4 linked regions of the Homo sapiens genome follow. The protein of the gene in region 4 interacts with the protein of the main gene of each other region in a pairwise test. Each region holds a gene or a part of one and is shown on either strand. Other genes may lie near its edges.

The links.
Region 1: the proteins of ANKRD23 (region 4) and CDCA7L interact in binary tests that used the Homo sapiens proteins (3 or more experiments, as listed by UniProt).
Region 2: the proteins of ANKRD23 (region 4) and CTNNA3 interact in binary tests that used the Homo sapiens proteins (3 or more experiments, as listed by UniProt).
Region 3: the proteins of ANKRD23 (region 4) and IQUB interact in binary tests that used the Homo sapiens proteins (3 or more experiments, as listed by UniProt).

Annotation. Positions count from the first base shown.
Region 1 is NC_000007.14:21,935,870-21,942,908, forward strand, and holds part of CDCA7L (cell division cycle-associated 7-like protein), read right to left. Parts: intron 4,447-7,039; exon of another isoform or gene 4,393-4,446; intron 1-4,392. UniProt on the Homo sapiens protein: Plays a role in transcriptional regulation as a repressor that inhibits monoamine oxidase A (MAOA) activity and gene expression by binding to the promoter.
Region 2 is NC_000010.11:67,217,175-67,224,213, forward strand, and holds part of CTNNA3 (catenin alpha-3), read right to left. Parts: intron 2,697-7,039; coding exon 2,433-2,696; intron 1-2,432. UniProt on the Homo sapiens protein: May be involved in formation of stretch-resistant cell-cell adhesion complexes.
Region 3 is NC_000007.14:123,454,557-123,461,595, forward strand, and holds part of IQUB (IQ motif and ubiquitin-like domain-containing protein), read right to left. Parts: coding exon 6,801-7,039; intron 3,011-6,800; coding exon 2,825-3,010; intron 2,721-2,824; coding exon of another isoform or gene 2,637-2,720; exon of another isoform or gene 1-2,636. UniProt on the Homo sapiens protein: Adapter protein that anchors the radial spoke 1 (RS1) complex to the A microtubule of outer doublet microtubules in axonemes. The triple radial spokes (RS1, RS2 and RS3) are required to modulate beating of the sperm flagellum.
Region 4 is NC_000002.12:96,837,394-96,841,042, reverse strand, and holds the end of ANKRD23 (ankyrin repeat domain-containing protein 23), read left to right. Parts: intron 1-130; coding exon 131-256; intron 257-528; coding exon 529-627; intron 628-712; coding exon 713-811; intron 812-947; coding exon 948-1,046; intron 1,047-1,217; coding exon 1,218-1,316; intron 1,317-1,398; coding exon 1,399-1,494; 3' UTR 1,495-3,131; downstream 3,132-3,649. UniProt on the Homo sapiens protein: May be involved in the energy metabolism. Could be a molecular link between myofibrillar stretch-induced signaling pathways and muscle gene expression.

The sequences.
Region 1 (7,039 bases), on a different chromosome or scaffold from region 4:
TTGGTGGTGGGCGCCTGTAATCCCAGCTACTTGGGAGGCTGAAACAGAGAACTGCTTGAACCCAGGAGGCGGAGGTTGCAGTGAGCCGCTACTGTGCCACTACACTCCAGCCTGGGCGACAGAGCAAGACTCCGTCTCAAAATGAATAAATAAATAAATAAATAGGATTTTAAGAGTACTATAAACAACCGTATGCCAACAAATTGGATTATCTAGATATAATGGATAAATCCCGAGAAACAAACAACCTAGCTAGATTAAATTATGAAGAAACAGAAGATCTGAATATATTTGAAATAAGGATTTTAAGTAGTAATCAAAACCCTCCCAACAAAGTAAACCCCAGGACAAGATGGCTTCATGGGTAATTCTACCAAACATTTAAAGAAGAACAAACACCAGTCTTTCTCAAAGTCTTCCAAAAACTTGAAGAAGGAGGAACACTTGAAACTCATTCTATGTGACCAGCATTATCCTGATACCAAAGCCAGAGAAAGATACTAGAAAACTATACAGCCATATCTCTTACGAATACTGATACAAGAATACTCAACAAAATGCAGGTAAAACAAATTCGGCAGTGTAGCAAAAGGATTATACAAGATCACCAAGTGGCATTTATTCTAGGAATGCAAAATGGTTCAAACACATAAAAATCAATTAATGTAGTACACCCTATGAACAGAATAAAGGGGAAAAACAAAGATCATCTCAACTGATGCAGAAAAACATCTGACAAAATTCAACACCCTTCCCTCATCAGAAAAAAAAAAAATAGAAGGAAACTTAAACTCACCAACATAAGGCTATATACGAAAAACCCGCAACTAACAAGATACTCAATGATGAATGGAAGATTGAAAGCTTTTCCCCTAAGATCAGGAGCTAGACAAATATGCCTGCTTTTACCACTTCTATTCAACGCAGTATTGGGAGGTCTAGCCAGACCAATCAGGCAAGAAAAATAAATAACGCATCCAAATTGGAAAGGAAGAAGCAAAATTTATCTCTGCTATAAGAGACGTGATTATATATGTAGAGAACACTAGAGATTACACAAAAAGTAGTTAGAGCTAACAATTAGACATTGCAGGACACAAAATCAACACAAAAATCAACTATGCTTCTACACACTAACAATGAACAATTATGAAAATTAAGAAAACGATTCCATTTACAATGGCATCAGAATAATAAAGTACTTAGAAATAAGTTTAACCAAAAAGGCGAAAAAAGCCTTGTACACTGAAAACTACATCCCCGAAAAAATCAAGGAAGACAAGGAAATGGAGAACCATCCCATGTTCATGGATTGGAAGGCTTAATATAAGGTGACAATACTAACTGAAGCTATGTACAGACTCAATGTATTCCTTCTCAAACTCTCAGTGACTTCTTTCGTAAAAACAAAAGTCCATCCTAAAATTAATGTGGAATCTCAAAGGACCCTAAATAGCCAAAACAATCTTAAAAAAGAAGAACAGACCAGGCGCAGTGGCTCACACCTGAAATCCTAGCACTTTGGGAGGCTGAGGTGGGCAGACTGCCTGAACTCAGGAGTTTCAGACCACCCTGGGCAACATGGTGAAACCCCATCTCTACTAAAATACAAAAAAAAATTAGCCAGGCATGGCAGCATGTGCCTGTAGTCCCGGCTACTCGGGAGGCTGAGGCAGGAGAATTGCTTGAACCCAGGAGGCAGAGGTTACAGTGAGCCGAGATTGCACCACTGCACCCTAGCCTAGGTGACAGAACAAGACTCCATCCCTTAAAAAAGAAAAAAAAAAAAAAGAACAGTGTTAGAGGACTCACATTTCCTGACTTCAATACTTACTACAAAGCTATAGTAATCAAAACAGTGTGGTCTTGGCATAAAGGCAGACATATATATCAATGGAAATGAATAAAGAGCCCAGATACAAACCCTTGCATATACAGTTAACTAATTTTCAACAAGGATGCCAAGAATAATGGCAAAGAACAGTATTTTCAACAAACAGTGCTGGGAAAATTGGATTAGGTTGGACCCTTACCTTAAGCCATCTATAAAAACTAACTCAAGATGGATCAAAGATCTAAATATAAGAGCTAAAACTATAAAACTCATGGAAGAAAATACAGGGGAAAAGTTTCATGACACTGAATTTGGCAATAATTTCTTGGATATGGCAACAAAAGAAAAATAAATAAACTAGACCTCAAAATTAAAAACTTTTGTGCAAAGGGCGCTATCAAGACAGTGAAAAGGCAACCTATATAGAATGAGAGAAAATATTTGCAAATAATATCTAATAAGGGATTAATATCCAAGATATATAAATAACTCACTTAACAACTACAAAAACCCAGTTAAGAAATGGGCAAAGGACTTGAATTAACATTTCTTCAAAGAAGAGGTACAGGTGACCAACGGGCACAAGAAAAAAATTCTTAACATCACTAATCATTGGGGAAATGCAAAACAAAACCACGATGAGATACCACTTTATGCACATTAGAATGGCCATTAAAAAAAAATCCAGGAAAGAACTAGGGCTGGCAAAGACGTGAAGAAATTGGAACACTCGTGCACTGCTTATGATGATATAAAATGACACAGCCACTGTGCCAAACAGTATAGTGGTTTCTGAAAAAATTGAATTTAGTATTATCATATAACCCAGCAATTCTACTTTTAGGAACACACACCCAGAACAACTGAAAGCAGGGACTGAAGCAGATATTTGTATGCCAATGTTTATTCATTGGTATTTACAATAGCCAAAAGGTGGAAACAACCGACAACATAAATAGATGAGTAAATAAAGATGGTATGTACACATAAGAGTATTATTCAGACTTTAAAAGAAATGACGTCAGGCACAGTGTCTTATGCCTCTAATCCCAGCACTTTGGGAGGCCAAGACAGGAGGATTGCTTGAGCCCAGGAGTTCAAGACCAACCTGGGCAACACAGAGACTCCATCTCTACCAGAAATTTTAAAAAGAAAAATTAGCCAAGCAGGGTAGTACATACCTATAGTCCCAGCTACTCAAGAGGTTGCAGTGGGAGGATCACTTGAGCCCAGGAGGTCAAGGCGCAGTGAGCCACGATAGCACCACTGCACTCCAGCCTGGGCAACAGAGTGAGACCCTGTCTCAAAAGAGAAATAATTGAAAAAAAATTCTGATACATACTATAACATGGATAAACTTTAATAACAATGTTAAGTGAAATGAGCCAGTGACAAAAGGACAAATACCATATGATTCCACTCATATGAGATACCTAGGATAGTCATATCCTCAGAGACAGAAACTAAAACAGAAGTAACCAGGGGCTGGAGGAAGAGGTCATAGGGGTAATTGTTTAGTAGGTAGAGAGTTTCAGTTTAAAATGATGAAAAAGCTCATGAGAGATCAGTGATGGCGGCACAACATTGTGACTATACTTAGTAACACTGAAAGGTTAAAAATAGTACCTTTTATTATGTATATCTTACCACAATAAAAAGCCCCACAGGGTAGTCAATGTTATGTTTAAAAGAGAAGAAATAAATGGGAAGTCATTTTAGATATGTATTTACACAGGTCTTAGAAGAGCTATTCAGCAGATGAGTACCTAATGAACTGGAATTTTGGCAGAGATCCTGGGAGTGAAGTGAACCAAATCACTTGGGAAGTGTGAAGTAATTTCCTCCTCCAGGGAGGTCAGCAGATAGAACATGTGAAGCCAATGTTAAGATTTCTCTGGAGTCTAAAAGATTATCAAATTGGACAAGTCTGTTCTCAGTGTTTTCCAACAAGGTGCAACTGACGTTTTGGACAGAACAACTGCTTCATCCTGTAGGACTCTCCTGCCTGCCACATGGTACTTAATACCCCTGAACTCCAAACCACTTACCAGGGGCATTCCCCTCACCCTCATCACTCTAACAATCAAAAAGAAACCCACCCACGTTTGTTACCACGACTACCATGACCCCAGATCACTCAGATGACAACCACAGAGTGATTGAATCCAAAACTGAAATAGGAGCACCCTGGTCTGTTAGGATATGACAAGCTATAAAGCAGTAGCAAACAACCCTAAATCTCAATCAATAGCTTCAAACCAAAAAAAAAAAAAAAAAAAAAGGCTTCCGTCTTGTTCACATTACATGTCCATCACAGGCCAGCCCAAGGCTCTATTCCACACTGTCCTCACACCAGAACCTGGGCTGATAGAGCTACCACTCTGCAGAATGCTGACAGATGCAGTGGCAGAGGGAATGAGATACAGTAAGTGGTATGCTGGCATTTAAATAATTCACTTAGAAGTGACATATAGTACTTCTCATATTCCACTGGCCAAAGCAAGTCAAATAGCCTTGACTGTTTCAGGGCCAGGAAAGTGCAACCCTACACCACTTACCTGGAAGGAAAAGAACCAGCCCTGATGACTTCCAAACTATGCCTGCGAAGTGCTCTGAAAAGTAGAAAACGCTATATAAATGTTAATTAAAAGAGTATATTACTAACAATACTACTTTGCCCTTCCATCCATTCAATGGATATTTATTAGGCATCTAATACATGCTGGACATCGTCTCCTAAGCATCAAATATATGCCAGACACCATGCTAAGAGAGCTGATGAAAACTGAGTCGTAAGTGGTAGGGTAAGAGAAACAATCTTTAAACAATTCCAGTGTGGTATGATAAATGTGATCAGGGAAGTCAGCCCAGGTACTCCAGAAGTTCCCAGGGCGAGCACCTGAGCCAGCGGTGGGGGCAATGGATGGGAAGACTTCCAGGAGCAGTAACCTACATAGCTGCAGGATGCAGTCACCCTGGAGAACCTGCTGTAGATGCACAGGTGGAAGCATGAATGTGGGCGCTGTGGATGGGGTGTCCCTGCCTTCCGCCAAGTCAATGAGACCAACTTGCCACAAATTCCCCATAGCCCTAATCTGCAGTCACTTCCACTAAATGTCCACTGACACATTTATAGGTTTTCTTGGTTTTCTAGGCAGACCGGATGTAAAGAACAGATTTCTGGGACTACTCTCCACTTTCCCCCCAACTAGAACATTCTATGAGATGCTCTAAGTTCAAGGAGACAACATTCTTTCAGTCCAGTTATCATAAGCTTGGTTCTAACCTCAGCAAAAACTGCTTTCTTTCAGCTAATATAGCGCAACAAAAGGGGAAATGCCCTAGGAAAACAATGTGTCAGAGGCTCCTAACCATTGAAAATCAGGCACATTCCCTTTATGAGATATTAAATACATTATAAAGAGTTATTAAAAATAGTGCAGACTCCAACACAAGCCGTAAGATATACAGTATACCACCCTGAGATATTTATTTCCTCTAATAAAGAAAAAAATATTTTTTCAACAGAAAATACATAAAATACACATCTAGAAACACTAGACAGTCACTAAAAATGAAAACTGTAAAGATCTCTACGCTACTAGGAAAAGTAATGCTGATAGTGCTAAGGAAAGCAGATTCCAACAGCAATCATACTGTAAAGGTTAGACAAAGATGACGACTGTGCTACAGGCAAACACTTCATGGAAACTGCAGAAAATGGGGCACGGAGAGTAGGGGAAGCAGAGAAGTGGTTCAGTGCAGCTTACGGTAACATGTTATTGTTTGTACAATGCAAATTTCACATAAAAGTCATTCCTATGTAAAAGCTTGGTGGATCTTATTCACATTCCCAAACTGACTTTTACAGGCAGTATAAAGCATAATCTGGTGAGTTCCTAAAAAAGAACCAGACTAGCTGCTGTTAACACTCCAGCCCTTCTAGTTAAAGGGAGGAGGGAACAGGGCAAGTTTCCTGACTCACCAAGGCCCGGTGATTCCAGCAGCAAGGGCCAATTCCTTACAAATTGCCCTGAGCAAATTAGTCAATTTAGCCTTATCTTTAAAAGGCAGATAACACAACCTACTTCACAGAACTACAGTGGGGATTAAATCTGATAACTTTTAAGTACTTAGCACAGCATGACTTTTAAAAGGAAGTGATAGTTTCCATTCCTTGGGGGCAAAAAAGGATGGCTCTTAAGGTCTCCCTCTACTCTCCAAACCCAAGGTCCCCCAGGTCCCCATAGCACAGAGCAGGAGCCAGCTGAGCTCTGGCAAAAGCAGAAGAGGAAGGGAGTTCAAGCATGGCCTTCTGGTAGAGAGTGTGGGGAAAGAGGCGTGTTTTCTGTGTCTTTGTTCTTCCACCCTACCAATGCCTAGCACATAACCGGTGCTCAACTGACTATCTGATCAGTGTACTAACCCAGTCAGCAAGCCCTCTATCCTCAGCTGATGATCATGAAGGAAAACAGGCAGGAAACATCAACGATTTATTTGAACTAAAGCTCAGGCCCCTTGCACTGTGAGACTCCACACTTTATTTCTGTGCTGCATGCAGGGTGCTAGCATTTACTACTATGGAAGATACATTTTTCTGAGTGTTAACTTCAGTGGTATTTACCAAATATGCCTCTGAATGGTCCTATTTCAAAAAAACTACAGAAAGCACTGCTTTTCATAAACAAAAAGAACAAAATGGCCCCAGTAGTATTTTCTTATCTCTATCCCTACCTACTTTAAGTAGCCTGTAATCTATTCCATTTTGGTGAATAAAGCCGAGTCTTTTCTAAAACAAAACTGTATACTGGAGGTAAATATTCTAAAACATAACTTTGAGTAAAGGAAAACTCTCAAGAGCAGTTTAAATGTAATGCCTGGCTTATTCTATTCCAATGATGTTCTAATCTTTTTCATTAATTTACTCTAATGTTTGTAATTGTTTTAGGCCACAATTATCTCATTGTTTCCTGGCCTGTGTACCTGATCAGAATCATTATGATCTCTGAGGTTTTCGCCTGATTTTTGAGAATCCTGCTCTGCTATGGATGGGGTAGCCAGCAGAACACAGAACAACCAAGGAGCGTTTTAAATACAAGACTATTAGAGTGGCAAATCATTGTCCTTTCTGTGACCAGCTTCTGGGGCTCTGGAATTACATGTTAAACAACAGGATCAGATGGGAGCACTTTGCAGCTAAGAGAC
Region 2 (7,039 bases), on a different chromosome or scaffold from region 4:
TCATAGTATTATATTTGCAGGAGCAAAATAGAGCAAAGGTTATTTTGGATCCTTTACCAATACAGCTTCCTGTAAATAATGAAAAGTGCAACCATTTAATTTACCAAATCATTAAAAAAGGTTAAATGCTCAATAAATTCTGCTTTATCTAGTTCAGTCAGCCACAGCAGCTATTTGTAACTTGGATATAAAAAATATAGAAAACTTAGGCATTTTTTACTAGTTTGTGCATCTGTACCTTTGACTAGAACTAAATTTCAAAGGTTGTTCAGACAGTTTAGAATCCTCATTAGGATCTCAGAGAAATATCTTTTGGACCCCTTCCCGCCTCATGAAGAACAACTGAGTCTGCCTTTCTTAAGAGAACACTGTTGCCCTGCCTATGCCCACTCCCACTGAAGTTACACACATAACACGCACACTTTCTCCTCCTCTCCAACCACTGCCATTTTGTGCCTGTGGCAGTCACTTTCAACTAAAAAGAGAAAAGAGAAGAGGTCTCAGAAGGAGGAACAATTTGGAAATGTCTTCTTCTTTAATCCTAAAATACAGAATGCATTGTCTGAGATAAACTGGAGCTCTTATGGGAGCATTCTCTGACACAATTGTGTTTTAGTACTGTGAAAAATGTGCTATACAGGTTGAGCGTTGCTAATCTAAAAATCTGAAATCCAAAATGCTCCAAAATCTAAAACTTTCTGAATGCCAATGTGATGGCACTAGGGAAAAATTCAGCATCTAACTTCATGTGACAGGTCGCAGTTAAAATGCAGTCAAAACATCATTTCATGCACAAAATTTTTAAAATGTTGTATAAAATTACCTTCAGGCTATGTGTATAGGGTATATATGAAATATAAATGAATTTCATGTTTACACATCAATCCCATTCCCAAGATAATTCATTAGGTATATGCAAATATTCCAAAATCCAAAAAATTCCAAAATCCAAACCACTTCTGGTCCCAAGCATTTCAGATAAGGGATGCTCAACCCGTATGATCCTATCTATCTACTCTAACAAATTTCAATGTATCACACTCGGCACTCCCCAGATACAGACTACAGATGGTCCCTGACTTGATTTAACAATGGTTCAACTTATAATTTTTTCCAGCTTTATCATGGTGCAAAAGTAATACATATTCAGTGTGTATATAGAGTGTTTCAGGCCCCTAAAGGTCATACCCTTCCCAGGGTAGAGTAACCTGCATCCAGTGACTGAAAGAGACATACAGGCCTGGCCATTTCTGCCTGACAAGGTACACTCTGGAGGGCAATGCTCTCACCAGAGCTCCCTGCTGATTGGCCTAGGCTTTGCGGGTCTAGCTGTCAGGTAGACTTCTTCCTCTATCCAGTCCCGCTCCTTCCCTCTTTCCTTCCCAAATGTAACACCTTGTTTTCCAAACTCCATTCTGTGTGTGATTCTGGAGGACCCAGCCTACAACACTAGCCATGACTCCTTCCTTTCATTCATGTCCCACATCCATTCTATCAAAATTCAGTTGACTCTATTTACAAAATTTAGCACTGATGTCCACCAACACCACTCTAGTCTAAACTAAAACATGAGGTGGTTCATGTAAAGTGTATAAATGGAACCTGGGTTACTACAATAGCCTCCAGCCTGGTTTTTCAGTTCCTCTCATTGTTCTCCTTCAGTCTATGTTCCTTATGCAACTATCATAGTCCTTTTAAGACACGAGTCGCAGCATGTCACACCTTTGCTTAAAACCTTTCAGTGTATTCCCATTTAACTTGGAGTAAAAGCCAAAGTCCTTAAAGGCATACACACTCCTAAATGGTTGGTTCTCCAACCTTAGCTCCTGCTACTCATCACTTTGCTGTCTTCACCTAGACACCCTGGTTTTTATGTTGTCACTTAAACACAGGGCACATACCTTCAAGCCTTTGCTCTAGATCTTCATCTGCCCGATTCCTGAACTCTTTCAAGGCTTTGGCATTATCTCACCTTCTCAGTGTAACATCTATACAATTTTGTTCTCTACAGTGTTTATTGGTTTTATTTTTTGCCTATAATCACCTGCTAAAATGTAAAAATTTGTCAAGGGAAGTGATCAGATATGTCCCAAGCACATAGAACAGTAATGCCAATAAGTATTTGTGGAGTGAATAAATCTTATGCTTCATAAGTAGATCTACATAAAACAAAGTCATCATTTCGATCTAATTAACAATCCCACTTCAAATTCATTGGATTCCTTGGCAGAGATGTACAGGAGTCAGAAGTTTACTAACAGAGTACTTTCCTGTTAATCAATTCTTTGGAAGACTCAAGAAGGTGATAGAGACTAATCTGGATTTTTTATTTTCTCATGCTCTAAACGCCAACATGTGGATCTTCTTCTGTTTTATTATTATTATTACTGTATTAGGACATCAGATCACACTTTATCTTTCTCCCGACTTACCTCCAGCTCATCAAGGGCACTTCCCAGGGTTGCTGCCTGAGGTTCTGGTGGGGTTGTCATATTCTGGATCCCTTGTGAAGCATTTGAAATTACATTGAGAGCATTCTGAATTTCTTCACAAACTGTGTCCTTGCTTGCTTTGAGGGAAGCAACATCAGAATGCTCCAAACAAGCTGAACAAATTGAATGCAAGAGGGGAGAGTTCTCCTTCAGTGAAGCTCGGGCTCCTGCAATTTCATCTCTCTGATTTGGAGATTTTAAGTCCTGAGAAGGTAAATAAAAAGAGTGGTATCTTACAATGGGTTATGGGAGAAAGACTTAAATTAAAAAGCTTCTTTTTTTGTAAGTATAAATGAAAAGATAATAGACATGAAGAAGTCAGCTATAAGTTATAATCAAGGGCATCTATTATTTCTACATTCTTTCAGTTTCTGTTAAAAATTCTGCAGTATAAACAATGACACAGTTAATAAGTAAAGGTCCCCGTAGAGCAGATGTGTAAAGATCCATTACTATTCAGTCAAGTCCTTGTCAGTCAAATCCTTATAAGTAGCTAAAATACTCTGGCATTCACATTATTAAGTGCATTACATGGGAGCTTGAATTACAAGGATGCTGATTACCTCATTCCATAGATGTTGATAATTGCATTTAACCTCTCCGTTAAAATTAGACCAATTGAGTTAAGAACACTAATGAAACCTCCCACCATTCAGCTATTTTTCTTTTTCAGAAATACTAATAAATTAATCCTATATCATTCTTTCTTTGATATTTATTCAACAATTAGTTACTGAGCACTTAGCATATTCTAGCCCTTGTGCTGGACTCCAGTGTACAGATATGAAAAAATCCTACAAGGACCTTGTTCTTCTTTCTTTTGGGGGGAAAGGGCCTACAGACAAACAATGAACTAGATGAACAAATATACGAGATGATTTCAGGTGACAATAAATGCTATGAAGAAAACACAAAAGTGAAGTGTCATAGAGATTGACTTGAAAGGAAAAGCTGCTTTAGGCTGAATGGTCCGAGAAGGTATTTCTTCAGAGATGACAATTTGCAGTAAATGTAAATGAATAGCATTACATCAGAGAGAAGAGAGGAAAGAGAATGCCCTGTCTAAGTGATAGGCGATCAGAACTAGCTCAATATACAAGAAAAAAATCTGGCAAGCCCTACCTTAACCAAGTGATGAAATTTAACATAATCAGTGATATCACATGGATATCATGTACCCCTTGATATACTGTGACAGGAAAAGTATGCCATTTCTGTGGTATTCCCTCCAGGAACCCATAATTCCAGTCTAATCATGAGAAAAGCAACAAACAAAATGAGATTGGTGAACATCCTAAATGACACCTGGGCAGTATTCCTCAAGACCATTAACATCATGGAAAACAGGAGATGGACTGACAAGCTGTCACAGAACAGAGAAGATTGGGGAGACATAACTAAATGCAGTGTGGTACTGAGGATTAGATCCTGGAACAGAAAAAACATTCATGAAAAACTGCTGAAATCCAAATAACCATTATTAATAGTTAATAGCAATGCATCAGTATCCATTTCTTTGTAGTGGCAAATGTAAGATACAGCATTAACAATGGAGAAAACTGGAAAAAAGGTAAATGGGAACTCTCTGTACCACCTTTGCAACTTTTCTGTAAATCTAAAATTACTCCCAAATAAAAGCTTAAGTTAAAAAAAACTAATTCAAGGGACATTTACAATAGTTCATTCACTTCATATACAACATTTCATATAATCTTTATAAAAACTCATGAGAGATGTGATTATTCCCATTTTAAAACTCAAAACACTAAGGTTTCAAGAGACTAAGTTTCTTAGCCAAGTGGCAGAGCTAGATGGTGGTATTTCTTGTATTGTAACCCACGTCAGTATAACTTCCAAGCCCTTATCCTAAAAACTATGTGACATTATTTCCTACATAGGAAAAATTTTTTTCTTTTTTCTTTTTTTATGACAGAGTCGCGCTCTGTCGCCGAGGCTGGAGTACAGTGGCGCGATCTAGGCTCACTGCAAGCTCCGCCTCCTGGGTTTATGCAGTTCTCCTGCCTCGGCCTCCTGAGTAGCTGAGACTACAGGCACCCACCACCACACCCAGCTAATTTTTTGTATTTTTAATAGGGACGGGGTTTCATCATGCTAGCCAGGATGGTCTCGATCTTCTGACCTTGTGATCCGCCCGCCTCGGCCTCCCAAAGTGGAAAAATTTCTTATTTGCTACACAGAATGAGGACTTGTATTTGTATAATATCATGTAGCTTATAAAGTGCTTCTATACAGTATCTTACTGATCATGACAATAGTCTTTGAGGGAATGAGGCTGCTATTATTAGTCCTATTTTAACTAAACAGGTGTTTGGTGCAAGGAGATAGAAACTAGTAAAGGAACAGAGATCTAAACCTAAGTCTACTGATTGCTAACCTTATGCCTTTTCACAAGACTCTGCTACTCTGGGAATAATGTTGCATGAGGTTAATAAATGGCTTGTGCTACTATATTTTTAGTTCCTTCCCTTCTGAAAATAAACACTGTCTGCTACTTCACTCAGGCTTTGGAGAGATTAACTTCGTTACAAAATGTAGGGAGGACAGTTAGAAGTAGCTATCAACCCACTGTTCATAGTCACTAATCACCCAAGAAAAGACACTATGGTTTTCTTGGCTTGCTACGATTTCCCCCTTGTATATGTGGTCTGGGTTTTAGTTTTAGTTCTGTCATTAGCACTGTGAGCTAGGTAACTCATCTCTTTCGGTGTCTGTCTTTCTATCTGTAAAAATGGGATAATGATACTTCTGCCGACCCTCTCACAAGATTGAGTACATAGCACATCAGAAATGGAATATAAGTGGAAAATAGAGAAAAGGTGTAGAAAGAATACGGAATTGTTTTATTCCTTACATCTGTCAAACTTGGTGTACTGTTTCTGTACTGATAATCTTAGTGATTTTTGTATTTCCCACAACGTTGTACAAGCTCTACCTACAGTCATCAGTGTAACTTAGAGGATAAATAGTTTAATGTTTAGAAAGGATGCACAGCTCCTCAGATGAGTAATAATTAAAAGTATAAATATTTAGAAAAAGGTAAGGCAAATTCTCTGATATTACTGTACAATCACAACTTAATACATAATTCTCTCTGAAGTGACCTATACATTATGCTTCTTTATTTAGAAGGACAGTGTCAAGGTTTAGTTTGTTTCTGAAAGGTGAAAAACTTGAACATAGATTATAATCAAGAAGCTAAAGTTAAAATTATTTCTTTTGCTCTAATGGTAGCAATGTGTAATCTGATGGTAAATTGTAGTAACTTTAATGCCATGGGGACTTTGAAATGTTAAAAATACAAATGTATTTTGAATTTGGAGCCTATGCTTTGTCATCTCTGCCCAAGGCAATTACAGAATCCATGAGCCCAAATAGCAAGTCCTTGACGCCTGCGAAAAAGGACTAGATCAGTGAACATAACAAATATAACGTTACAGCAGTGGACAGGGGCAAAGGGGCAGGTGGCAGAGTTTATGTAAGGAAAACTGACAAGGCATGACCATTTCTCCCAAAGGACATCAAGCATGATAAACTTAATGTAGTAAATAGGCACACAGATAAAAGAGAAATTAATGACTGTCACCTCCTAAATGTATGTTGTGGTAGTGGTGTTTGTAGTTGTTTTATTTTAACTGATGATACCATAGGTTCAAAGGTTCTTGTTTGTCCATTTACCCTAAAATTTTACATAAAGTCAAAATAGGCATTAAACAGTAAAGTTAATCAGGGATTTCTTTGGATGGAGAAGTATAAAGAATTCAGCTCCTCAAGGATTGATACTTATTTATAATCTTTTTTTAAATGCTCCAGAAGAAAGCTCACAGGAGATTTCCAAGTTAAGAAGACATTAAATGTTTCCAGCTGACGAAGAAACACACAGATGGGATTTAAAAAGACCTTAAAGTCTGTGCAAGTGGGTAGAGAAGTAACATATGAGTTTTAACCCTGGCAAGAGAACAAAATATATTTAGGAATATTATTTTAAAAAATACAAGTGGAGGGCTTTAAGCTATCAGTTAATTAATTCAACCATTCCTTCAACCTGTACTATGTTGAGCCTCTCCTATGCTGAGCCTCGACTTTGCATCAAGGCAGTGTGCTAAATGTTGGAAATGCAAAGATAAAGATCAGGAGGGGAGACAAATAAACACATTTACATGGGAACTAAAATAGAGTTACCCACAGCATAGAGGACAGTCTCTCAGTTTGAAGGGATTAAATAAAATTTCTCAGAGAATGTGAATCTTTTTTCCAGCTTTATTGAGGTACAATTAACAAATAAAAATTGTGTAGATTCAAGGTGTACTATATGATGCTTTCATATACATATACATTGTGTAATGATTACTACAATCATATTAATCAATATATCCATCACCACACAGTTACCCTTTGCGTTTGTGTGTATGTGCTGTGAGAACATGTAAGATCTATTCTCTTAGCAAATTTCAAGTAAGCAATACATTATTATTAACTGTCTTCACCATGCTGTGAGTTAGGTCCCTAGAACTTACTCATCTTATAAT
Region 3 (7,039 bases), on a different chromosome or scaffold from region 4:
GATGGGTGGACATCAAGAGACCTTTTTTCCCATTGAAATAAGGTCCATTCTCTTGAAATAGCCATGTGATGGTTTTAAACTATGTTCACAAATTCTTTGGGTGTACAAATAGTTCTAAGAATATTACAGAAAGGTCCCATATACCCCACACCCACATTTTCCTGAATGTGTCTCAATCTGGGTTTGTCCTGTGTTTTCTTCATTATTATTAGACTGAAGGGATGGGTTTTGGGGAGGAAGACCACAGGGGTGAAGTGCCCTTCTCCTCACATCATATCAAGGGTACACACCATCAGCATGACAGCACTGCTGCTGTTAATCTTGATTACCTGGCTGAGGTAGTGTTTGTCAAGTTTCTCTACTGTAAAGGTCCTCCCCTTCCATCCATAATATAGTCTTTGGAAAGGAGTTATTATGTACAGCCCACATTTAAAGGGTAGAGAGTTATTCTCCATCTCCTTAAGAGTGGAGAGTATCTACATAAATTATTTGGAATTCTACATGGGAGATTTGTCTATTTGCCTCCCTTTATTTATTCATTCAGTCGTTTTTTAAATTTTTTAAATTGATAATAATTGTACATATTTACGGGGTACATAGTGATGGGATGATACATATATCATGATCAGAGTAATTAGCATATTCATCTCAAACATTTATCATTTCTTTGTGCTGGGAACATTCGATATGCTGCGTCTAGCTATTTGAAACCATATATTGTAATTAACTATAGACAACCTACAGTGCCACAGAACAGTACTAGAACTCACTCCTCCCATCTAGCTATAATTTTTGTATCCTTAACAAATCTCTCCCTGTTCCCTCAACCTCTGAGACCTTTACTTTCTACATTACATTTTTTATTCTGTTCAGATTCTAAGCCAATAATATATTGCTTTAAAATTAAAAATAAAATGCATCAAAAATTTTTAAAGTGCTTTCATAGTTACTACCTAAGTTTATTCATGCCAAAAAAAACTATGCAGAAAGCTTTAAATAATGGCCTACTCAAAGCTTCCCTATGATGAGATACCATTATCTCTTTTTTATAGACGAGAAAGCTGGGTCATTGAGACATTCACAAATTTGTCCAATTTCTCCCAGCTCATGAATGGTAAAGCTAGAATTCAGAGCCAGAGCTGCTTTTATCCTCTTTACTGATTCCACTTATTTAGCTAATCTTTCTAAAAATTTATGAAGCAAAGAGGGAAGGTTTTAATGTAAAGTTGTCAGTGACAGAGATTTGAGTTAACTGGGTCAGGATTACTGATTTTAAGTCCATGATTGTTCCTACTTTGGCCAGTGTGCACACAAGGAGAGATCAATCTGCTCCACTTAAAGTTCACATTAACGAAAGTGTTTTTCCACGTTTCCTATACCTGTTTCATATTAACTTGCAAGTATTTTTTTAACTTCTTAAGAAAGCAAATATCTCTGAACATTAAGAAAATTCTGAAAATGCTCCATCTTTCTGCAAGATATAAACTACTCTTTAACTGGGCTGAAAGTTAATAGTTAAAAGATTGTATCAGCCCAAAACCATAAAAAAGGCAAATGTTTTTCCAGTTTGTCTGCTTGCAAATCTTGGTGCCCTTTACAGAAATTCGATAAGACTGGCATTCTAAATTAGAAATGCATGTGAATAGAACATTTAATTTGATACTGCAGTAATTTGATTAAATGCACAAAGGGAGTTGTGTGGATTAATTGAAGAAGCACTGGAATATCAGCTTTGGGAATGAACTTCAATCTCATCATGGGTCCTAGATGAAATGATATTGCTAGTATTGACTATGCTTCCTGTGATTAAATATTTATGAGGCAGCTTAGTTTACTAAATATAACATTTAATACAGCTTCAACTTATTGCTACCTTTTCTTTCAATCCCTAGAGTGAAATTTTTCTTAGCCTGGCTTCTTAAAACTAAAAAAATATTTAAAAACTAAAACTTTAGCTAGTTTCTTATCTTTATATTCATCACCCCTTGTTCCACTGAAAAAAAACAAACAGGGAATCACACTATTTTAAACGACTACTGCATTTTGTCATTTCTTTACTTTCCTTTAGCTGACACCTTGTGTGGAATTAAAGAATGCAGAGAATCAGTATTAACTCTCGGGATCCTGGACCTAGTGTAAATGGAGCTCTCTACGAACTCTTCAGGAGTCCCTCAACTTACCCATCAAAATGTTTTACAGATTGCATCATGTAAGTTACTAAAATTACAGTAAATGGCATTTAATGTTTACAGTGCTTGCTCCACTCCCAGCAAGTTGGAAGCAAATGAAAAATGGAGCATCAGAACTACACCCCATCAGTATGATTGCTATTTAGAGCACAAAATTATGAACAAAATTTGAGAGTTGGGTGTTTTTAAGCAGACTCATGATAATTAATCAAAGAAGGACAGATTCTGGGTTCCATAATACCTATCTGGTGGTAATGCACATTTATTCATTCAACAAATACTTATAAACTCCATTCTGTGACAGGCAGTATTGTAGGTATTAGAGAAATAGATGTAAATAAGCCAAACAAAATCACTGCCTTCATGGAATTTACCGTGGAATGTGCTTAAACTTACTATTAGGAGAGACTGGTATGATGTTTAGGACTTGTAATATGTTCAAATCTCTTATATATACCTTTTATTTAATCTGTGCCATATATGCCATCCATAAATTTTTTTGTTGTTAATCCATAAGTTCTGTTTCTTAATCTGATGGAAGTATTTAAGCATGGAATATATTAGAAGGCAGTCCAGTTATCGCTAATAATTCCAATGATTAAATTAACTTCCCAAATAAAATTCAACTTTCTTACCTCTTCAATACTTGTTAGCTTGAGATGAGCAGCTGCTTCATCTTTGGTAAGAAGAATGCAGTTCCAGGGGGACCACTCCAGGGATTTATTCCATCTGACCATGACCAGATCACTGAGATTGTCGCAAGCACTGAGGACTGACTGGGACGCCCAGATGTTCTCTGTCAGGTACTGAATGTCTTGTAGCTGCATGTCAAAGCAAGTTTTAAAAACAATGTAGTTTAAATTTGTTTAAGATTATTATATTACTTGAGCAAATAATTAAATTATAGAGTATTTTTAAGTGAATTATTATTCACTAGGTTTCAATGACACATAGCCCCTTATTTTTCACTAAACTTCTGTTCATTTTGCCTAAACTACATTATCAGTCTCACAGTTGCGTCCCCATCTCTAAACCAGAGTAAGCAGTATAAATTCATTTCAGTATGCTAATTTTACCTGAATATAATCTTAATAATACTATAATGTTACCATAATAAACATATGGTATTGAATGATCTTTAAAATTCATTAGTAAGTACCATCTTAATTTCAGGGCCATTGTAGGGACCTTTTAAAACCTTTTACTGCCATTTTACAAATGAGGAAGCTGAGATTTTTTTTTTTTAATATGGAACACTTCACAAGTTTGCATGTCATCCTTGTCCAAGGGCCATGCTAATCTTCTCTATATGGTTCCAATTTCAGTATATGGGCTGCTGAAGCAAACACAGGAAGTTGAGATTTAATAAAGATAAGTAATTCACTTAGTGTTAATTAAAAGACTTGGTTGTTTTAATCAAAAAGAGGGGTAATGAAATAGCTGTTTAAAACTTTTTAAAAAACGTAAATCTTATCAGCTAAAACTCTTGGAATGACTTTTTATCATGGGGTCTGCATTATAAATTTAGAATTGCCAGAGACGGACAAACTCAACAAAGTATAAGCATGTAAAAAGAATATTTTTTAAAAAAGCTTCTGTGAAAAAGTGTGAGAGCAGAAATATTTTCTGTAAAATGAGTACACAAAACCTAAACAATCTGCCAAAGTAAAAAACAAAAAGAACCTGTCATCATCAGCTACAACAGTATTTCATAAATTGGTAATTCAATATATTAAGCTCAACTAATGCATTCTAGCTTTTACTTAATGCTAAAAAAGACAATACTCTGTACACAGCTGCTATGAAAAATAAATTTATAGACCTTTAAAATTCAATGTTTTATATATTTTACTTACATTCAAAATGCATCTTGTTTACATTTTTGTTTTTAATTTAGTTGCTCAACTGTACTAATAATTTTGAAATTGTATCATACAGAATAACGTGTTTATTTGCATGTAAATGTCAAATGTGCACATAAGTGTGGTTGACAGTCTCTAAGAGCTTTCTACCTTTCAAGTAGTCATTGTACTTGAAATTTTTGCAGTAACAGAGCAATACTATTGCCTATTATATTAGGCAGTATTTGTATGCATTACAGATAAACGAGGTGACTAGTACAACACTCAAATCTCTTGTCTAAGCAGAATGTTTACTTTTTATATATATTAACTTTCACCTTTTCATTTTACATGGCATCATGTTCACATTTAACATATGCTAATCTTTGCTGTTGTCCACAAGATTTACTATTTATGAGAATGTTCAAACATTCAAATTATGCCTCAAATACTATTACTGAAATAAATATTAATCAAAACTACACCAATTACAAGGGGGGGGAAGCTACTGGACACTCATATTTGTCTGCTAATCCTAGACATTGGAAAAGTAATAGACCAAAACCCTACATAGATACGGTACTGAAATTAAATCACATCTAATGGAGATTATCCTTATCTGAAAGGTTACAATGCTCCCCTAGAATTTTTTCATTCAATATGTGTAATGGTTGATTTTACATCAACTTGATGATGCCACCGGATACCCAGATATTTGGTCAAACGGTATTCTGGTGTTTATGTGAGGGTAGTTTTGGATGAGATTAACATTTAAGTAAGTCAGTAGACTGAGTAAAGCAGAGTGTCTTCCATAATGTGAGTGGGCTTTATCCAATCAGTTGAAGGCCTGAATAGAACAAAAAGTTCACCCTGTCCCCAAGTAAGGAAGACTGTTTCTGCCTAATGGCCATTGAATTGAGACACTGGCTCCTCCTGGCTCTATAGCAGCCTGCTGGTCATCAGACTTGAACTGGGCCATCAGCTGTTTAGGTTTTAGACTTACCAGCCTCCACAATTATGTGAGCAAATTCCTTGTAACAAATCTCCTTATATGTATATATATATAACATATATGTATAACATTTTCTATTGGTTCTGTTTCTCAGGAGAAATCTGACTAATACAACATGGAATATTGAGCCAGCACTTCTTGGTGACTTACATTAAAGCCCTAGTACATCTAAGATTCTCTACAAGGAAATATACATCTGTCATGTCAATAATTCCTGAATAAAAGTAGCAAATAAGAATTTAAGCTGAAATAAACATCAAATTTATTAACAAAATATTCATTCTATTGGACAAAATATGTAATCATTTTAATTTGTGCTTTTCAAACTGTGGGTTGCTACCTCTTGGGTGATACCAAAGTTTTCCAAATGGAAATCAGAATAAGTAGACTGAGATTGAATAGAAAATATCAGAGTACATCCATAGGGGTAAAGATAAACACTATTTTGGAAACTTTTATTTCTGAGGCAGAACAGCATGTGTTTACATGTACGGATGCTGGGAATCAGACTGCCTAGTTTTCAATCCTGGTGCTGGTACTTAGTAGCGTAAACTTGGACAAGTTAGTTAACCACTCAGTGCTTCCCTTTCCTCACCTGCAGAATGGAAATAATGCCTATTTTGATAGGATTTTTGTGCTGATTAACTCAATAAAGTGTGTAAAGCCATATAGGTACTGAGTATTGAGAATTATCATGCATGCCTATATCAGGTTGTCATAAAAATACATTTTTACTATAGATTGAGATTTAAAAGTTTGAAAGCTATGGATTTAGAAGAATTTTTTAACAAAGCACATCACATTTGGTATCTTTTTTTTAATCTCTATAAAGTTTTCTATTCATAGTAGTGCCTACTTTCCTATTTGGTATTAAATACAATTTAGTTCATTTTAATTAGTAACTAATTTACAGAAAATTTGCCCTTATTTGACAGTCTGTGAACACAAATATCATTAATGAGGTCAATTGTGCTCTATAATATACTTTTATTAATAAGTGGCTAATGTTGGGTAGCCATATCAACAACAAGTAAGTCCTTCTGTTTTCTCACTTGCTTACCTAAGTCCAAACAGTGTCAGGAATTTGTTTTTATTTTGTAGAGACACAGACTATCCTCTGGCCTAAACCCAATAGAAGACATGGAATAACCAAAGAGACCGAAGTAGTGGTTAAGTTAGGAATTCAGGTCAGAATTCCTGATCTCACAGGCTCCACCCTCTCACAGAGCTAGAAGTTCTTACGAGAAGCAGATTACGTAGGGTCAATGATCCAATGCAATGATTCATCCAAAAGAACTCTGGCCAGAAACTTTCCAGTTGTGTGGTATCATATCAACACTTTACATAGACAAGTATCAAAGCCTTTCCCTAAGGTTTTTTTTTTTTTTTACTTTCTATAAGCCTTAGCTTTCACTTTTGGTGTTATTTACCATTATGGTCACATTTGGTTTACACTAATTATTACTGTTATTCGTAAACACTAGTATGTGTATATGTAACATCAGTTTCTGTAAAAGTCATTCATTCATTCAACAAATATTGAGGGCCTTAAATAAAAACTTGGTACTGTATTAGGTTATAGAGGTATAATGGTGAGCAGGAGGGAAAAAAAGCATACTCCTGCCCTCACAGAGCTTACAGTCTAGTGGAATAGAGAGTCATTAAACAATCACACACACACACACAAACATACATAAGATTGCAAGATAGCCTCCTTGACAAGCTTCAGCTATAATTGGCACCCCTTATTGACCATACCTGCATCAAGAAAGCAATTTTAGAATCATCTTCATAATCAGCTTCTGTATAGTAGAGCTGTTGAAGTAAACATTTGTACTTCAAAAATGATTCTCGTTTTTGAGCCTCATTCTGAAGGTTAATGCAGTTACGACACCGGTATATGCGGCGTGAGGTGGATGATACAGAAAATTCTGTAGAAGGCAAATAAAGCTGGCAACTGTGGCAAAAGTAAATCTTCTTATAAAATTTCAATGGGT
Region 4 (3,649 bases):
TGCATTAGTACGAGCCAGCAGTGTTCCTTGGTGGGCTGCATGGGACCCGTGGGCCAGACTGGTGAAGCTGTGACATCTTGGGCACCTGCGGCCTTCGGGAGTGATTTGGTCTTGTCTTCAACTGAACCAGCCGCAGTCCCAGGCCCAGGTGGAGCCTGTGGGCCTGGAGATGTTCCTGAAGGCAGCTGCTGAGAACCAGGAGTACCTGATTGACAAGTACTTGACAGACGGAGGGGACCCCAATGCCCATGACAAGGTAGCACAGGTTGGGTGAGTCGGCTGGCAGCAGCTGCAGCTGCAGGAGCGCTGCCTTCAGTGTGTTCAAGTCCTGGCCTAGGAGGCTGCAGGGATTTTCACTCTTATGGGCATGAATCCAGTGGCACCTGCAGACGGAGGAGAGGGAGCGGCCCATCGCGTGGTGGGGGAAGTGGCAATTCCATTCAGGGACCTGGCCCTGGGAAGGGGACCGCGTGGGGTCTCTAGGGGTGGCTGCACTCCCTCTGCCTAATCTTCCATCTCTGCCCTCAGCTCCACCGCACCGCCTTGCACTGGGCCTGTCTGAAGGGTCACAGCCAGCTGGTGAACAAGCTGCTGGTGGCAGGTGCCACAGTGGACGCGCGAGACTTGGTGAGGATGGGGAAAGGCCCAGCCTCTGGTCGACGCCCAGCTTCACATCCCAGCAGCTGAGTGCTTGGGTGCTTTTGTTTTGCAGCTGGACAGGACACCTGTGTTCTGGGCCTGCCGCGGAGGACATCTGGTCATCCTCAAACAGCTGCTTAACCAGGGAGCCCGGGTCAATGCCCGGGACAAGGTGAGGGGCACGGTGCTTTGGGGGCCTGTCGGGAACACGGGAGCAGACGCTGTTCCTGGAGAAGAGAGCACGTAGTCCCATGGGTTAGGGAGGCCTCACCAATCCAGACCCAGCACTGACCCCCACTTGCTCTCAGATCGGGAGCACCCCCCTGCACGTGGCAGTGCGCACCCGGCACCCCGACTGCCTGGAGCACCTCATCGAGTGTGGCGCCCACCTGAACGCACAGGATAAGGTAAGGCAGGCGCTTGGTCTTTTCCGGCTCGGACAGCTCCAGAGGAGCAGGGACTGAGGAGCCCCAGCCAGGACCAGAGGTGCTGTCTGCTCGGTGACAGCAGCCCTGACCTTCCTGCATGAGGAGGGCAGCACGCGGAGGCAGAAGCTTGACTGCCTGCGTTCTCAGCAGGAAGGGGACACGGCTCTGCACGAGGCCGTGCGGCACGGCAGCTACAAAGCCATGAAGCTACTGCTGCTCTATGGGGCCGAGCTGGGGGTGCGGAACGCGGTGAGTGTGGGCGCAGCCCTGGCTCCTGACCCGAGGGCGGGTGGAGCGCCTGCAAGGGACTGACCCACACCGTTGCTCCCAGGCCTCCGTGACCCCGGTGCAGCTGGCTCGAGACTGGCAGCGCGGCATCCGGGAGGCCCTGCAGGCCCACGTGGCGCATCCCCGCACCCGGTGCTGACCGCAGCACCGCCCCCCGCCGCGCCTTTCGCACTGCCACCATTCCATCCTGTGCCCCGCCCCCGCGTCTGCACCTCTGTGGTTCCTGCCCTCAGCCCTGGTTCCTCCCTCTCTGGCCTGTGCCGCCTCAGCAGCCCTGGCAGAACTGAAGAGCGGCACCGGGCCCAGCAGGCAAAGAGAGAGGCCTCCCTGGCTTCGAGTGTCAGGGGAGCCGCGTTCCCTCCCAGGGCTGGAGCAGAGGACCACAAGGCAGCAGAAAGCGCGGGTCCAGATGAGGGCCAGGAAGGGGAGGAGAGTGAGGGCCAAGAACGAGCCTTAAGGGAGCAGTCCCAAGCTGGAGCCACCCAGGGCTGGGTCTGGGAGTCCTCAGTGTCCACTTGTCCCAGGTTAGGGGGCTTGCCTTGCTCTCTCCAGGGCCAGTCTGTGTGTGTGGGGACTCAGCCCGTGGCCGGCAGATGCCATCCAGGATGTACAAGGTGCAGCCAAGGCAGGCCATGCAGGGGCCGGGCCTGTCTGCAGCTGGTGGATGCCTGTGGGCATGGCTTTCTCTGGGGACCCCATTCCTGTCAGTAGCAACCCTGGCAGTGTCCGGAGCGGCTCTAGACAACTTTGGTCATAGGAACTCTGGAGGTGGGTTCTGGTCATCTGAGGTGGCTACTCAACAGGTTTGAGGCCCCACAGCAACAGAAGTCCAGGACCCACTAGGTTGCCTCAGAAGCCCTAAGACTGATGAGCTGGAGCGCGCATTTGAGAGAAGCCTCGCACCCACTGTGTACTGGCCCCGCTCAGGCCGGCCTGGCACACCGTTGCCTGCTGGCGGCTCTCATGGGGAAGCGCCTGGGCACTGGGGATTGCTTGTGGCCCACTCAACTCTTGGGGCAGTGGCCCGTAACCCTAGTTTGCCTGAGGCCCTTATGTCCCCTTATGTTCCTGGTACTGGAGCTTGAGCTCTTGCCTGGAACGCTGCAGCTGCACCCACCCTGCTTGATCCCACCTGGGAGGCCAGGACACTGAGGAGCTCTGAACCCAGCCCACAGGGAAGCAGAGGAAGGTGAGCCCCCGCCGCCCCCCAGCCCTTCCCATCCCTTCCCTGCTCCCTGGTGGTCTAAGGACCCAAGCTCCCTAGACTTCCTCTTCCACCGTCTGTACGTTTCAAATTACACTGGTGTAGGCCTGTACTGCTGGTGGGGCTGGGCCCCTAAACGCCAGAAAGTGAATCTTAAGAAGCTCTGCCCTAAACTGAGAACCACATGCTGAGGGAAGGGCTGAAAGGTGAAGGCTCAGCCTCCCTCACATGGGTCCTGGGTTACATTAGGTACCGGGCTGATTGATAGGCATTTGGCCATGGTTCCTTTTCGTCTACCTTTGGGGGCCTTCTCAGGCCCAGAACAAGGCTGTTGTTACTATGTGGAAAAGCTGACCAGTGCTGCACACTAGGGGCACACACCTTTCCATGAGCAGCTCCTGCCCTGTGGCGACAGCCAGCGTGCACCCAGACGCTGGTGCCATGGCGAAGCAGGCGTTCAAGACCATGGAGAAGACAACTCCTCATCTAGAAAATGAGGACACCTCAGTGACAAACACACCTTTTTATACCAATCAGTATCCTCTGTTCATTAAAACTGGCTATCCATTACAGCCTAGCCGTCTTTCCTGGGCCGAGAGGAGCCCATGCTTCAGTCACCAGGGACTGTCTGATAGGGCCCACGCCTGTTAGCCATGCCGGCCGACAGCAAGATAGGCCGAGTGCAGAGTGGGCGGGATGCGGGGTCCTGGCACTAGGCTTTTGTGCTTAAGGCACCTCTGCTCACTGACGACAAGGTCAAAGAGCAGTGGTTCTCCACCTCAGCTGCTTATCAGAATCACCAGGAAGGTTTAAAAAGTCCTGATGTCCAGACCCTAAGTCAGAAGCCCTGAGGGGAGGATCCAGGTATTCTCATGCAGAGGCCATGCTTGTCTATGTGGGAAATCCTAGGAATCTACAGAAAGCAGACAACTAGGGAGTCCAGCAAAATCTCGGGTGCAAGATAAACACACAAAAACCTGTTTCTACCTCCTAGAAATGAACATGTAGACACAAAAGTTAAAAATATGTACTGTTTACAATTGCTGAAAAAGGGAAATACTTCGGTTTAAATCTAACAAAATATGCAAGG